Linked DNA regions of Homo sapiens: region 2 is linked to region 1. Evidence: fine-mapped expression QTL. A gene starts in region 1. The other region holds a variant in brackets. All regions are shown on one strand. Distances are from middle to middle.

The links. PIP is the estimated chance that this variant, and not a neighbour inherited with it, causes the effect.
Region 2: its variant is fine-mapped to the expression of CAMSAP3 in sun-exposed skin (GTEx, PIP above 0.99).

Annotation. Positions count from the first base shown.
Region 1 is chr19:7,590,737-7,599,502 of GRCh38, forward strand. CAMSAP3 (calmodulin regulated spectrin associated protein family member 3) reads left to right here and starts at 5,127. Exons shown (of 17, transcript NM_020902.2): 1 at 5,127-5,414. The coding sequence starts at 5,267. RefSeq lists silencers at 2,563-2,763, 4,827-5,266 and an enhancer at 6,106-6,711.
Region 2 is chr19:7,565,813-7,574,578 of GRCh38, forward strand. No RefSeq gene overlaps it. Among named protein-coding and RNA genes, the nearest start is that of CAMSAP3, 26 kb to the right of the region's middle. The variant C/A (reference allele first, on the strand shown) is at 5,173.

The DNA of each region.
Region 1 (8,766 bases):
GAAAAGCAAACCCACGTGTGAGCCGGCAGGACACGCCAAGCTCACAGAGGGGCAGGTTATGGCAGAAGCACCCTTTCCTGCTGGAAATGCTTCCCCGGGCCAGGAACCCCAGGTCTCCAGATGGGGAAACTGAGGTCCAGTGGGGAAAAGACCTTGTTTAGGTCCTTCGAGGGGACTGGGACAGGAGCCGGGGCATGCGTCATCCACATCAGCACCTGTGCTCACACACACAGACACTGGCCCCTTTGCGCACCCACACCCACTCCTGCACGGGCACATCCAGACAGGAGGGCCCACGCCCCAGCTCCCCTCCCTCGGCACACCCACCCCCATGCCTGCTCACATGCTCCGGACCATGAGACCCACGCCCCAAACACACGTGCCATTTCAACAAAGAGCTAGCTCTGGGGCCACCATCCGGGGTCAAGGGTCTTGGAGACCACCTTGCCACAGCGTCTTTCCATTTCATAGCGTTTTGTTTTTGTTTTTTTTTATGAGACGGAGTTTTTTTGCTCTCATTGCCCAGGCTGGAGTGCAATGGTGCGATTTTGGCTCACCGCAACCTCCACCTCCCAGGTTCAAGCGATTCTCCTGCCTCAGCCTCCTGAATAGCTGGGATTACAGGCATGCGACACCATGCCTGGCTAATTTTGTGTTTTTAGTAGAGATGGGGTTTCTCAATGTTGGTCAGGTTGGTCTTGAACTCCAGACCTCAGGTGATCTGCCCACCTTGGCCTCCCAAAGTGTTGGAATTTATTTATTTATTTATTTATTTATTTTTTTTTTTGAGACGGAGTTTCGCTCTTGTTGCCCAGGCTGGAGTGCAGTGGTGCAATCTCAGCTCACCGCAATCTCTGCCTTCTGGTTTCAAGCAATTCTCCTGCCTCAGCCCCCCAAGTAGCTGGGATTACAGGCATGCACCACCACCTCTGGCTAATTTTTTTTTTATTTTTAGTAGAGATGGGTTTCTCCATGTTGGTCAGGCTGGTCTTGAACTCCGGACCTCAGGTGATCCGCCCACCTCAGCCTCCCAAGGTGCTGGGATTACAGGCGTGAGCCACTGGGCCCGGTCTTTTTTTTTTTTTTTTCTTTTTGAGATGGAGTCCTGCTCTTTCGCCCAGGCTAAAGTGCAGTGGCACGATCTCAGCTCACTGCAACCTCTGCCTCCTGGGTTCAAGCAATTCTTCTGCCTCAGCCTCCTGAGTAGCTGGGATCACAGGCGCCAGCCACCACACACAGGGAATTTTTGTATTTTTAGTAGAGATGGGGTTTCACAATGTTGGCCAGGCTGGTCTCGAATTCCTGACCTCAGGTGATGCACCTGCCTCAGCCTCCCAAAGTGCTGGGATTACAGGAGTGAGCCACTGTGCCCGGCCTGTATGTTATCTTTTTACGTATCACTTTCTGAGTGCATTTGTGTGCATGAAGCTGACATTTACATTTGTGTGAATTTGTGAATATTTGTGTGAGTCTGTGAGCACTTATTCCTGTTCACAAGGTGACAAGGTGCCTATGTATGTGTGTGTGTGTGTGTGTGTTCTGAAAGTAACACACGTTTTTCTTTTCTTTTTTTTTTTTTTTTGAGACAGAGTCTGGCTCTGTCACCCAGGCTGGAGTGCAGTGGCAAGATCTCAGCTCACTTCAACCTCTGCCTCCTGGGTTCAAGCGCTTCTCCTGCCTCAGCCTCCCAAGTAGCTGGGATTACAGGCATGTGCCACCATGCCTGGCTAATTTTTGTATTTTTAGTAGAGACAGGGTTTCACCATGTTGGTCAGGCTGGTCTTGAACTCCTGACTTCAAGTGATCCACCTGCCTCGGCCTCCCAAAGTGCTGGGATTACAGGCTTCAGCCACCGTGCCTGGCCGAAAGTAACACACTTTTCTTTCCAGGCCTGTAAAGAACGAACTCACACAAACACTTGTGCATTCACAATTATATACAGCTAAGAGGCATGCAGGGGATATTTTGACAAAAATACAATGGAGGGCCAAGCACAGTGGCACATGCCTGTAATCCCAGCACTTTGGGAGGCCGAGGTGGGAGGATCCCTTGAGCCTAGGAGTTTGAGATCAGCCTGGGCAATATAAGGAGATCCCATCTCTACACAAAACAAAAAATTAGCCAGGGATGGTGGCTGCAGTGAGCCATGATTGTGCCACTGCACTCAAGCCTGGGGTGACAGAGTGAGATCCTGTCCAAAAAAAAAATAAAACAACAACAACAAAACAAACAATAGAACAAAAGCAAATATTAAAATATTAAAAACATCCGGCTGGGCGCGGTGGCTCATGCCTGTAATCCCAGCACTTTGGGAGGCCGAGGCGGGTGGATCACCTGAGGTCAGGAGATCAAGACCATCCTGACTAACACAATGAAACCCCGTCTCTACTAAAAATACAAAATATTAGCTGGGCATGGTGGCCGGCGCCTGTAGTTCCAGCTACTGGGGAGGCTAAGGCAGGAGAATGGCGCGAACCCGGGAGGCGGAGCTTGCAGTGAGCTAAGATTGCACCACTGCACTCCAGCCTGGGTGACAGAGCGAGACTCGGTCTCAAAAAAAAAAAAAAAAACAAACAGAAAAAAAAAAACCAAAAATCCACAAATCGGTGCTTAGACCTTACAAATAAACACACAATTGCACTCATGTACACAAATATTTGTACTCAACGCGTTCACACACACTTCCATACTTACAGACACAATCAGATTCATACACAGAAATACATTTGCTTACACAGATATGAATTCCTAGATAAATATGCACATTTGAACTCTCACAAAAGCATTCAGACACAGGCATTCTTTTTTTTTTTTTTAATGTGACGGAGTCTCACTCTGTCGCCCATGCTGGAGTACAGTGGTGCAATCCTAGCTTGCTGCAACCTCTGCCTCCTGGGTTCAAGCGATTCTCCTGCCTCAGCCTCCCAAGTAGCTGCAATTATAGGTGTGGGCAACCACGCCCGGCTAACTTTTGTATTTTTAGTAGAGATGGGGTTTCACCATGTTGGCCAGGCTGGTTTTGAACTCCTGACCTCAGGTGATCCACCCGCCTCAGCCTCCCAAAGCACTGGGATTACAGGCATGAGCCACTGCACCCAGCAGAAACAGGCATTCTTGCACAGGTATACCTGCTTTCATGCCTACACAATCTGTCACAGGCACCCACCATATATTCAAATCCACAAAGATACTCACATATAAACACACATATATGCACAAAAATATAGTCAGGAACTGCTCATCATAAATCACACATCTGCTGGGCGCGGTGCCTCAAGCCTGTAATCCCAGCACTTCAGGAGGCCGAGTTGGGCGGATCACGAGGTCAGGAGATCGAGACCATCCTGGCTAACATGGTGAAACCCGGTCTCTACTTAAAAAAAAATACAAAAAACCAGCCGGGCGTGGTGGCGGGTGCCTGTAGTCCCAGCTACTCGGGAGGCTGAGGCAGGAGAATGGCATGAACCCAGGAGGCAGAGCTTGCAGTGAGCCAAGATCGCACCACTGCACTCCAGCCTGAGCGATAGAGCGAGACTCCGTCTCAAAAAATCAATCAATCAATCAATCACACATCCATGTGCATATAGCCAGATTCACATACTCAAATACAAACCCACTTAGACACACAGCCTCACCTCCACACAGAGCCTTCTCCCAGCACACACTGCAGATACCAGAATAATACACAAAGACACTTGCAAATACACCCAGTACAGCTACGCAAGGACACTCATAGACACAAATAGTCACACTCTTGCAGAAATATACACACTTTTTTTTTTTTTTTGAGACAGGGTCTCACTCTGTTGGCCAAGCTGGAGTGCAGTGGCACTATCTCAGCTTCTGCCTCCCTGGTTCAAGCGATTCTCCCGCCTCAGCCTCCCGAGTACTTGGGATTACAGGCATGCACCATTATGCCCGGCTAATTTTTAAAAATTTTATTTTTAGTAGAGACGGGGTTTTGCTATGTTGGCCAGGCTACTCTTGAACTCCTGGCCTCAAGTGATCTGCCCGCCTTGGCCTCCCAAAGTGCTGGGATTACACTCGTGGCCACCGCTCTCGGCCTGAAATACACACACTCTCAATGTCTCTCCATACTCCTGCATTGACAGAGGCATCAATAACAGCCTCATACAACACACCAGTACGTTCAGATGCACAGAGATAGACATACTCACAGCACTCCAAAAACACACACACAGCCGGGCACGGTGGCTGCCGCCTGTAATCCCAGCACTTTGGGAGGCTGAGGCGGGTGATCACCTGAGGTCAGGAGTTTGAGACTAGCCTGGCTAACATGGTGAAACCCCAACTCTACTAAAAATACAAAAATTAGCCGGGAGTGGTGGCGCAACCCCGTAATCCCAGCTACTCGGGAGGCTGAGGCAGGAGAATCGCTTGAGCCTGGGAGGCGGAGGTTGCAGTGAGTCGAGATCGCGCCACTGCACTCCAGCCTGGGAGACAGAGTGAGTGAGACCCTGTCTCAAAAACAAAAACAAAAACAAAAACAAAAAACAGACACACACTCATCACTTCCATCCATCCTCAGGATACAGACATCTATATAATACATATCCTTGTACACACAACAAATTAAACACACACTTACACGTGCCCAGATACATACCCCACACACACACACCCCTAGACACCCCCCAATACACTTGGTCACCACCCAAATGTATTCAGAGATACACAGATACGAAGACACTCATATTCTTGTGCCTTCACTAACATAATCAGAAACAGGTGCACCCAACCACTCTCTGCCTGAGGGCCGGCGTTTATTGCAAGCACTTGCAGGAGCTCCTACGCCTAAGGGTAGACACTGGGGCTGGCACACACAGAGGGTCCCTAATCCTTTCCAGTAAGCTAGGCGCGCGCGCACACACTCACACACGCGCGCGCGCACACATACACACTCAGTCCTCCGCAAGCTCCCTCCACCATCGCCGCAGTCCAGGCCGCCCCCCTCCGCCCCGCCCCTGCTGCTCCGTGCACACTGCAGTGAGGGGCCCGGGCGGGGCGCAGGGGCGCGCCAGGGTCCGGGTCCGGGTTCGGGGGCGGGGCGCACCTGGGCTCCTCCCCGGGGCGGGCCCGACGCAGCGTCGCCAGCGCAAGCGGCCGCACCTGGCTCAGCAGCGGCGGCGGCGGCGGCGGCGGCAGCGGCGGTAGCAGCAGCGGGCCCGGCTGGGGCGCGAGCGCGGCGCAGCCCAGCCCAGCCCAGTCCGAGCGCGGACCCGGCGCCCGCAGCCCCGGCGCCGCCATGGTGGAGGCGGCGCCCCCCGGGCCCGGGCCGCTGCGGAGGACCTTTCTAGTGCCCGAGATCAAGTCGCTGGACCAGTACGATTTCTCGCGGGCCAAGGCGGCGGCCAGCCTGGCGTGGGTGCTGCGGGCCGCGTTCGGGGGCGCAGGTACCGGGGCTCGGGGGACCGGGGTCGGGGGCGGCGGGCCGGGCGCGGCAGGTGCTGGGGGGGGGCGGGGCGCCGGGCCGGGAAGGCAGGGGGCCGTGGGAACAATAGCGCCGGCCGCCGGGGGTCCCCGGGCTCGGGCCCCTGCCGCGCCGGGGCCTCCGAGCTTCCTGCTCGGCCCGGGCGGTGGACTTTGCCCCGCCGGCTGCGGGAGCGCGGTGGGGGTGGGGCCCGCGGCCCAGCTCCGCGCGGGGGTCCCCGGCGTCCAAGCCTCCAGGTGAGCCGGGCGGGGTCTGCGGGCCGGGTGGGGTCTCCCCGTGCGGACCTCTCGTTCCCGCCTCCCGCACCCCCAAGGCCTTCCCTTGCACGCCTTCTTCTCTTTTACACACATCACGCCCCTGCGAGGATCTCCTCTCGGTCTCTTCCCCCGCCACACACCCTGGAGACCCAGACCCCGACCTCGCTGGGGGGTCTCGAGCGCTCCGGTCTCCACCACCGCACGACCCCCAGGCCCCAACACACACCCCGCGTCGGCCCTGGCCGCGCTGCGGGCGGCGACCGGGGAGCTCTGGGAACCCCCTTTCGCCTCCATAGCCCCCTCCAGCGCCTGGCAGCTGCGACTTATGGCCCCATTTTACTGGGGAGGTTGGCGAGCCCAGCTGAAGGGAAATGGGTAGTACAAGATCGCCTGGGGTGGGCCCCCCGCTCCTCCCGGCTGCGGGGCCTTCTCCCATTAGAGCAGATCCTTCACTCCCTCCCCCAGGCCCGCTTGCCTGAGAGCCCGAGCCACCCTAATGGGGAGGATGCCGTAATCCCGGGTCCCCGGGATTAGAGGCCCTGGAAACACTCAGTCTCGGCTTTGGGCAGCTTCACAACCCCAGGCCAGAGCTAGGAGTCAGGGCCTGGCCAGAGAAGACAGGGGTTAATTAAGGTCTGGGCTTTCCAGCGGGGAGCTGTGGGGGTACATCCTTTTCTCCCACTGGTTCTGCCCACTGGTGTTGGCACAGCCCATCCCCCCTCTCCCTGGCCTTCCCAGATCAACCTGTTCTGGGTGTGGGTCTCAGTGACAGCTGTCCGTCTCCTGGTTCCGCCCCAGCCTGTCCCTCTTTCTCCCAGACAGTCTCTGTCTGCGTCGTTCCATGCATGCATTTCCCACTCTGGGGTCTACCTCCCTGCAGATATTTGCTTGAGGAAGAAAGAGATTGGGCATTGGACAGCCAGGACAGCCCCAGCTCCTCACTTCCAAGGTTACCAGGCTGTAGAGAACTCAACGTGGAGTGTCAGAATTGAATGTGAAGTCCAGCTGCACCAGAATGCGAATTATCCCAATTATCTGAGCTTCTGTTTCCCCTTCTATAAAAGAAGGCGTTCATTCACAGACTTATCTGTTTTGCGAATGTTTGTGGGGCAGGGGCACTTGCTATGTGTAGGGCACTGCTCCAGTGATGGAGACCCCCCGTTACCTCTTTGCAAGGTTGCTGGGAGGCGTAAAAGCTGTAGTGACCACAGAATTCTTCGCGTGGCACGGGGCGCGTGATACATGCGAAACGGTTGCTCGCTGCTGGTGTGATTGGCGGTGGTATATTTTGATGAATAATATTAACGTTATCCATTATCCCCTGGCCAGGAATCAGAGTAGAAATTATCCCATTTTGAAGACAGCAAAGCAAACTTCTGATGAGGGGTGTTGGTGAGCTCCCAGTGCCCTGACTCACCCAGTTCTGTTCTTGTTGACCCAGCTCCCTCTGCTGTGTGACACACGGCAGTGGCTGCCTCTACCGTGAGGGTCAAGTTCAATCTGTTCCCTGTTCCACTCCCCTAAAAAGAGGAGAAGGGCTGAAGGAAATGGGAGCAGAGTTCTACAAGATTCATGAGCTCTGGGGACTCTTGACGGTATGATACCTATCAGGTGCTGGGCTGGGCGCTCAGGGTGTAGAGGAGACGGCAGGGGATGGATATGGGGCAGAGGGGGATGGGCAGGAAACCAGATCATAGGGAAGCTGGCCAGCGGGGCCTGGGGAAAGAAATTCTTGAAATCTTCCAGGGAGGGAAGAGATCCCACAGGTGGAAAGATTTGAGTCTGGAAGGATGCATGGAAGTTTGACACGGAGAAGAGATGTGTGGGCAGTGGGCAAAGGCTCGGAGTGTGGACCAGCAGGGAGTTCTCAGAGAATAAGATGCAGGTCCCCGGGGTGGCGGTGGGAGATAAGGGAGGCTGGTCAGACTGAGGAAGGCCCTTCAGGCCCCTGGTTATGGATCCAAGGGTACTGGGGAGCCACGGACAGTGTTGGGAACTGACAAGATCAGGTATGCAGTGGCCCCGTGGGAGTAGTGATGGCTCAGAGGAAGGGATAGTTCTGGCAACTCCAAGGCACAGGTGTGAGAAGGCTGTGCAGAAATAAAAGCAGAACACAAGCTTGGAGATTAGATAAGAAAGGGTTCCAAGCCTGGCCAACACGATGAATCCCCGTCTCTACTAAAAATCCAAAAATTAGCCGGGAATGATGGCACACGTCTGTAGTCCCAGCTACTTGGGAGGCTGAGGCAGGAGAATTGTTGAACCTGTGAGGCGGAGGTTGCAGTGAGCCGAGATTGCACCACTGCACTCCAGCCTGGGTGAAAGAGAGAGACTCTGTCTCAAAAAACAAAGGGTTCCATGTTAAACACATTTGGAAAACACCCCATGCAGTTCTTTATGCCTTCAGAACAGATGTGTGATGTGTGAGGGAAACTCAAGTTCATGTTGGACATTTTTATCCTGGACAAGTTATCTCAGCTCTCCAGGCCTTGGTTTTCTCATCTGTACAAGGGGTATAATAATAAGTGTCGTAAGGATTAAATGACTGGATGCAGGGAAGGTCATGGTATAAATAAATGGTTGGGTGTGGTGGCATGGGCTTGTAGTCCCAGCTACTCAGGAGGCTGAGGCAGGAGGATTGCCTGAGCCCAGGAGTTCCAGGGTACAGTCAGCTATGATCACGCCACTGCACTCCAGCCTGGGCAACAGAGTGAGATCCTGTCTCAATCAGCCTTCCATCCATCCATCCACCCATCCATCTACCCACTCATCCATCCATCCACCCACCCATTCATTCATCCATCCATCCACCCACCCACCTACCCACTGCACTCATCCATCCACCCACCCACCCCACTCATCCATCCACCCACCCCACTCATCCATCCACCCACGCACTCATCCATCCACCCATCCATCCACCCACTCATCCATCCATCCACCCATCCATCCACCCATTCATTCATCCATCCATCCATCCACCCACCTACCCACTGCACTCATCCATCCACCCACCCACCCACCCACCCCACTCATCCATCCACCCACGCACTCATC
Region 2 (8,766 bases), 25 kb before region 1:
TCCCAGATCCTAGGGAGGCTGAGGTAGGAGGATCACTTGAGCCAAGGGAGGTCTAGGCTGCAGTGAGCCATGATCATGCCACTGCACTCCAGCCTGGGCAATAGGGCGAGACCCTGTCTCAAAAAATTAAAATAAAAACAAACAAAAAACAAACTATTGACTAACAGAGTTGGAACTGAGCCTCAACTGGACCTTCCTGGACTCTCTAGGCTACCCCTCTCTGGTTCCAGAGCTTGAGACTCAGCTAGCGCCAAGAAATTTTGAGGTTACAGTGAGGACCTGGGTTCAGGGTCAGGGGCCCTGTCCTGCAATCCACAGGAGCTGGCCACGAGGTGTGGACCCAAGAGACTGATAAAGTCACATTCTCAAGAGTGTTTTCTTGGTCTCTCTCTCTCTGTCTCTCTCTGTCTCTCTCTGTCTGTCTCTCTGTCTCTCTCTCCCCCTCTCCCTCTCCCTCTCCTCTTTTTCTTTCTTTCTTTGACAGAGTCTCTATCTGTCACCCAGGCTGGAGTGCAGTTGTGTGATCTCGCCTTAGCGCAACCTCCACCTCCTGGGCTCAAGTGATTCTCCCACCTCAGCTTCCTGAATAGCTGAGATTATAGGTGCATGCCACCATGCCCAGCTAATTTTCTTTTTAATTCTTAGTAGAGATGGGGTTTTGCCATGTTGGCCAAGCTGATCTTGAACTCCTGACCTCAAGAAATCTGCCTGCCTTGGCCTCCCAAAATGCTGGGATTACAGGCATGAGCCACCGCACCCAGCCTCTTGGTGTGTTTGTTGCCCAGTGTCTGGAAATGGCCATGTAGAGGTTGGACAGGGAAGAACCAACCTGGTCAGGCTGTAGGACATCTTTTGGCCACCCAGGCCAAGTGCAGTGGCTCATACTTGTAATCCCAACACTTTGGGAGGCCAAAGCAGGAGGATCGCTTGAGGCCAGGGGTTCAAGACCAGCCTGGGTGACATAGTGAGACTCTGACTCTATGAAAAATATTAAAAGTAGCTGAGTGTGAGGGTGGGCTTCTGTAGTCCCAGCTACTTGGGAAGCTGAAGTTAGAAGATCGCTTGAGCCCAGGAGTTAGAGGCTGCAGTGAGCTATAATTGCACCACTGCACTCCAGCCTGGGCAACAGAGTAAAACCTTTTATAAAAATAATATTAATAATAAGTTTAGGCCAGGCACAGTGGCTCATGCCTGTAATCTCAGTACTTTGGGAGGCCAAGGCAGGTAGGTCACTTGATGCCAGGAGTTGGAGACCAGCCTGGCCAACATGGTGAAACCCCTTCTCTACTAAAAATACAAAATAGCTGGATGTGGTGGTGCGTGCCTGTAATCCCAGCTTCTTGCGAGGCTGAGGCACGAGAATTGCTTGAACCTGGGAGGCAGAGATTACAATGAGCCGAGATCATGCCACTACGCTCCAGCCTGGGTGACAGAATAAGCCTCTATCTCAAAAAATAAATAAACAAATTAAAAAAAATAAGAGGCTGGGCATGGCGGCTCACACCTGTAATCCCAGCACTTTGGGAGGCTAAGGCAGGAGGATTGCTTGAGCCCAGGAGTTTGAGGCTGCAGTGATCTATTATCACACCACTACACTCCAGCCTGGGTGACAGAGCAAGACCCTATCTCTGAAACAAAAATAATAACAAAAAAAGCAAAAAACAGGGAATTTTCCTTTCCTTCTTTATTGCCAGAAAGGAAAAAAAAAATCAGGGTCCTACATTTGCACAGATTGGCAGGTTCTGCCCATTGCTAGCCAGCTGACCTTGGGCTTCCCTTCCCCCATTCTCAAATTTGTCACCTGTGTATTCTACCTAATTTTAGTCCCAGTGGGTTGCTTTGTAATTTATCTTTATTTTTATTTTTTTGAGATGGAGTTTTGTTCTTGTTGCCCAGGCTTGAGTGCAATGGCATGATCTTGGCTCACCACAACCTCCGTCTCAGCTCACCGCAACCTCTGCCTCTGGAGTTAAAGCGATTCTCCTGCCTCAGCCTCCCGAGTAGCAGGGATTGCAGGCATGTGCCGCCACACTTGGCTAATTTTGTATTTTTAGTAGAGACAGGGTTTCTACATGTTGGTGAGGCTGGTCTTGAACTCCCGACCTCAGACGATCTTCCCACTTTGGCCTCCCAAACTGCTGGGATTACAGGCGTGAGCCACCATGCCCGACCTGTGATCTAAATAAAAGGAAACAGGCTGGGCGTGGTGGCTCACACCTGTAATCCCAGCACTTTGGGGGGCCAAAGTGGGAGGATCGCTTGACGTCAGGAGTTCGAAACCAGCCTGGGTAACATAGTGAGACCCCCCCCCCCGTCTCTAATAAAGAATAATACATTAATAAAATAAAATAGGCCAGGCACGGTGGCTCACGCCTGTAATCCCAGCACTTCGAGAGGCCAAGACGGGTGGGATCACCTGAGGTCAGGAGTTCGAGACCAGCCTGGCCAACATGGTGAAACCCCGTCTTTACTAAAAATACAAAAATTAGCTGGGCGTGGAGACGCACGCCTGTAATCCCAGCTACTCAGGAGGCTGAGGCAGGAGAATCGCTCGAACCCAGGAGGCAGAGGTTGCAGTGAGCTAAGATCGTGCCACTGCGCTCCAGCCTGGGCGACAGAGCAGGACACCGTCTCAAAAAAATTAATAATAAAATAAAACTAAGATAAAACAAAACAGAGCTCCTTGCAGGAGGAAACTGACGCACACACCTACCTGGACCAGATTCTTACTTTTCTGCCACCAGGGGGCGGTCCTGCTATGGCGTTCAGGCGTCTGGCTCCGGGGTGGAGCTTTGCTGACTAGGGGAGGGTTAAGCACCGAGTAGCTGTGGGCTGACTTACTGCTTTTTTTTTTTTTTTTTTTGTCGTTTAGAATTAACATTTATTGGAAAGGAGGGGAGGGGAGGGAGTACTGTTCTCATTATAAAATCATTACCTGTGTGCTTCAGCCAGGTGCAGTGGCTCATGCCTGTAATCCCAGCACTTTGGGAGGCTGAGGCAGGTGGATCACTTGAGGTCAGGAGTTCGAGACCAGCCTGGACAAGAAGATGAAACCCCGTATCTACTAAAAATACAAAAAATTTAGCCGGGCGTGGTGGTGGTCGCCTGTAATCCCAGCTACTCGGGAGGCTGAGGCAGGAGAATCACTTGAACCCAGGAGGTGGAGGTTGCAGTGATCTGAGATCACACCACTGCACTCCAGCCTGGGCAACAGAGTGAGACTCCATCTCAAACAAACAAACCCACAAACAAATTATTACTTGTGTGCTTAGAACAAATTTATAAAACAAATGCAACATAAACATAAAGGTAATATGTGTTCATTTGGAAATATATGTTCATGGAAAGCAGAGTGTAAAAAAAGAAAAGGTCACAGGAATTCCACCGCCTGGATGTGAACACTGCTAATACTCCCTTCTTTTTTCCCAATTTCCTTCCTTTTGTTTTGTTTTGTTCTGTTTTGTTTTTTGAGATGAAGTCTCACTCTGTCGCCCAGGCTGGTGTGCAGTGGTTTGATCTCGGCTCACTGCAACCTCCGCCTCCCGGGTTCAAGCGATTCTCCTGTCTCAGTCTCCTGAGTAGCTGGGATTACAGGCATAAGCCACCATGCCCAGCTAATTTTTGTATTTTTAGTAGAGATGGGGTTTCACCATGTTGGCCAGCTGGTCTTGAACTCCTGACCTCAGGTGATCTGCCCACCTTAGCCTCCCAAAGCAATGGGATTACAGGCGTGAGCCCCAGTGCCTGGCCCAGAGTCAGTTTTTTATTCTGCAATCAATTTAAATGTCCTAGATTTGCTTTTATTGCAAGTCAGTGCCTTGAAAGAAAAGATGAGAGCGTTTGATGACATGAAAACATGCTTAACAAAGACAGAAGACAAACAAAGCCAATAGCCTGGAAGGAAATATTTGTCACATAAATTAGGCAGATGATCGAGCTTTGTTCATGTTTATTGAACACTTACTATTATATATACCAGCCATTGTTTGGGGGGGGTTGTATTTATCAAATAACTTAATTTTTAGCCCTTTGATATAGGTAGTATTATTATTTCCTTTTTTATCTTTTTGGTGTTTTTGTTGGTGTTCTTGCTGTTTTTGAGAATGGGTACCGCTCTGTCGCCCAGGCTGGAGTGCTATTGGGCAATCATATCTCACAGCAGCCTCGACCTCCTGGGCTCAAGCAATCCTCCCACCTCAGCCTCCCCAGTAGCTGAGACTACAGGCCCCTGTCACCACACCTGACTAATTTGTTTTATTTTTTCAAAGTGAGATGGCGGAGGCGGGTGGGGGGTCTCACTTTGTTGCCCAGGCCGGCCTCGAACTCCTGGGCTCCAGCGATCCTCCTGCCTCAGCTTCCCAAAGTGCTGGGATTACAGGTGTGAGCCACCATGCCCGGCCAGTTTTCACTTCTTAATTTGGCAAATGCTAAAAATATTAACACATCCAGTCACACTGAAAGTTGGGTGAATAAGAAACATCTTCACAGTGTTAGGCTGGGAAACTGTCAATTATGGAGATTTTAGGGGGAAGGGAATTTGACTGTCATCATGCAACAAATTTTTTTTTTTTTTTTTTTGAGACGGAGTCTCGCTCTGTCGCCCAGGCTGGAGTGCAGTGGCGTGATCTCGGCTCACTGCAAGCTCCGCCTCCTGGGTTCATGCCCTTCTCCTGCCTCAGCCTCCCAAGGAGCTGGGACTACAGGCGCCCGCCGCCACGCCCGGCTAATTTTTTGTATTTTGAGTAGAGACGGGGTTTCACCATGTTAACCAGGATGGTCTCGATCTCCTGACCTTGTGATCCGCCCGCCTTGGCCTCCCAGTAAACAACAAATATAAAGCGCATAACTTTTGACCTAGCCGGGTTTCGTCCAACAATCAATCCTCTATAAACGCATGCGTCTAAAGATGTGTGTTCCTCACAGCGCTTTTCTGCAATGATGCCGTTGCTTATAAAAGTGAAAATTGGAAAACAGTCTCAGTGACTGACAACAGAGGCATAGTTTAATAAATTAGGGCACAGTACCTTACGGGAATGCTCTGAAGCCATTAACAAGAATGAAACAGACTTATAGCTATTGACATAAAAAAAATTCCTAGGTACTCTGCTCCACGGATAAAAAGAGTCATAGAACATTGTGTACAGTATGATCACATTTACGTCCAAGACCGTC[C/A]ATGACACACAGGTTTGTACATGCACGGGATGCCCTGGGAGGATAGTTCCTTGGGAAGAAATATCAGGGTGGGAATTTAAGGGGGAGAATTTCAATATTTTTACTTTTCTACTGTTTGACACTTTAACAATGAGATTGCATTATTGTGATAATTTTTAAATTTATTTGATAATTTTTAAAGCCCCCAGAAATGATCCTGTTTTGAAATTGTTAAATATTTCTTTTTGTTTTACTTATTTATTTATTTTCGAGACAGGGTCTCATCCCATCACCCAGGCTGTAGTGCAGTGGCACTGTCTCAGCTCACTGCAGCCTCTGCCTCCTGGGTTCAAGTGATCCTCCCACCTCAGCCTCCCAAGTAGCTGGGACTACAGGGCATGTACCACCATGCCTAGCTAATTTTTTTATTTTTAGTAGAGGTGAGGTCTCCCTATGTTGCCCAGGATCGTCTCAAACTCCTTGGCTCAAGCAATCTGCCTGCCTTGGCCTTTCGAAGTGCTAGGATTACGGGCATGAGCCACCTTGCCTGGCTCTTTTTAAATTTTATTATTTTTTATTTTACAAAAGTAGAGACAGGGTCTCACTGTTCTGCCCAGGCTGGTGTTGAACTCCTGGGCTCAAGTGGCTGGCCCACCTCCACCTCCCAGAGTGTTGGGATCACGGGCTTGAGCCATCGCACCTGGCCTAAATATTTCTTTAAAATGACAGAAAGCCGGGCATGGTGGCTCACTCCTGTAATCCCAGCACTCTGGGAGGCCGAGGCAGGCGGATTACCTGAGGTCAGGAGTTCCAGACCAGCCTGGTCAACATGGCAAAACCCCATCTCTACTAAAAATACAAAAATTAGTCCCAGCTACTTGGGAGGCTGAGGCAGGAGAATCGCTTGAACCCGGGAGGTGGAAGTTGCAGTGAGTCGACATCGCACTACTGCACTCCAGCCTGGACGACAGAGCAAGACTCTGTCTCAAAAAACAATAACAAAAACAAAACAGAAAATAAAACATAACAGAAGACAGGCAGAGCAACAGTCTGGGAGGAAATATTTGTCACATCAATTAGGCAGAATATCAAGCATTGTTCATGTTTATTGAACACTTATTGTATACCAGCCACTGTTTTGAGGCGGGGGGGGGTTATGGTTATATTTATCAAGTAACTTAATCCTGTGATCATGGTTGTTTCTGACATTTCAGTGTTATGAATGAAACCGGGATGAATATCTTTTTTTTTTTTTTTGAGATGGAGTTTCACTCTTATTGCTGGAGTGTAAAGGCACGATCTCAGCTCACTGCAACCTCCATCTCCCGGGTTCAAGCAATTCTCCTGCCTCAGCCTCCTGAGTAGCTGGGATTACAGGCATGCGCCACCACGCCTGGTAAATTTTGTATTTTTAGTAGAGACAGGGTTTCTCCATGTTGGCCAGGCTGGCTCGAGCTCCCAACCTCAGGTGATCCACCCGCCTTGGCCTCCCAAAGTGCTGGGATTACAGGCATGAGCCACGGCGCCCGGCGAGGGGATGAATATGTACGAATCTTCACGTGCATCTGTGAGGATATCTTTATGTTATCTCTAATTTTTGTGTTTGGTTTATTTCAGAGTTGGGATCTCACTATGTTGCCCAGGCTGGTCTTAAACTGGACGATTCTCCGGCCTCAGTCTCTCAAAGCGCTGGGATTACTGACAAGCCACTGCCCCAGTCCTGCTTAGTTTTCTTTACATTACAAAGCAAACTTTTGTGTCAGGGACTAAAATCAGGTAGAATACAAAGATGGTAAAACAGTCTGGGAGAGCTTAAACCCGAGGCCATCTAGCTGGCAAGCGGCAGAACTTGCCACTCTGTGCACGTTCAAGTCCCTGTTCTTTTGTTTGTTTCTTGTTTTTTTTTTAGAGACAGGTTCTCTCTCTGTCGCCCAGCTGGGAGGGAGTGCACAGGCATGATCATAGCTCAGTGCAGTCTCCACCTCCTAGGCTCAATCGATCCTCCCACCTCTGCCTCCCAAGTAGGTGGGACTAGAGGCATGCGACACCATGCCTAGCTCATTTTTAATTTTTTTTTTATAAAGACGGAGTCACGGCTGGGCACAGCAGCTCATGTCTCTAATCCCAGAACTTTGGGAGGCTGAAACCAGCAGATCACGAGGTCAGGAGTTCAAGACCAGCCTGGCCAACATAGTGAAACCCCGTCCTACTAAAAATTCAAAAATTAGCCAGGAGTGGTGGCAGGTGCCTGTAATTCCAGCTACTCAGGAATGCTGAGGCAGGAGAATCACTTGAACTCTGGAGGCAGCGGTTGCAGTGAGCTGAGATCATGCCACTGCACTCCAGCCTGGGGCAACAGAGTGAGACTTAGTCCTAAAAAAAAAAAAAAAAAAAAAAAAAAAAAGCCAGGCATGGTGACTCACACCTATAATCCTAGCCCTTTGGGAGGCTGAGGTGGGTGGATCACCTGAGGTTGGGAGTTCGGGACCAGCCTGGCCAACATGGAGAAACCCTGTCTGTACTAAAAATACAAAAATTAGATGGGCGTGATGGCGCATGCCTGTAATCCCATTTACTCAGGAGGCTGAGGCAGGAGAATCGCTTGAACCCAGGAGGTGGAGGTTGTGATAAGCTGAGATGGCGCCACTGAACTCCAGCCTGGTCAACAAGAGCCAAACTCCATCTCAAAAAAAAAAAAAGATATTGATTTTTAAATTTTTCAATTCCCAATTATTCATTGTTATCGTGTAGAAATACAGTTTAGTTTTATATATAGACCTTGTATTCTACAACTTCACTAAATCACTTACTGGATCTAGTAGGTTTTTTGTACATTCATTCTGATTTTTTGTGTAGATGATGTTTTATTTTTCTTTCTTTTCATATATGTTCGCTATCATCTTTCTCTTCTTTCCAAGTCTGTGTGCTTTTTATTTCATTTCCTACCTTATTGCACTGTCTGGGACTTCCAATACAATACTGAATAGAGGTAGTAAGAACAGACATCCTTGGCCAGGCATGGTGGCTCACGCCTGTAATCTCAGCACTTTGGGAGGCCAAGGTGGGCGGATCACCTGAGGTCAGGAGTTCGAGACCGGCCTGGCCAACAATGCGGAACCCCGTCTCTACTAAAAATACAAAAATTAGCTGGGTGTGGTGGCATGTGCCTGTAATCCCAGCTACTTGGCAGCCTGAGTTGGGAGAATCGTTTGAACCTGGAAGGCAGAGGTTGCAGTGAGATGAGATCGTGCCACTGCACTCCAGCCTGAGGGACAAAGCAACAACACCCTGTCTCAAAAAACAAAACAAAAACCAGGCTGGGCGCGGTGGCTCTCGCCTGTAATCCCAGCACTTTGGGAGGCCGAGGTGGGCAGATCACGAGGTCAGGAGATCGAGATCATCCTGGCCAACATGGTGAAACCCCGTCTCAACTAAAATACAAAAAAAAAAAAAAGAAGCCAGGCAAGGTGGCACGCGCCTGTAATCCCAGCTACTCAGGAGGCTCAGGCAGGGGAATTGCTTGAACCTGGGAGGCAGAGGTTGCAGTGAGCTGAGATCGCGCCACTGCACTCCAGCATGGCGACAGAGAGACTGTCTCAAAAAAAAAACAAAACA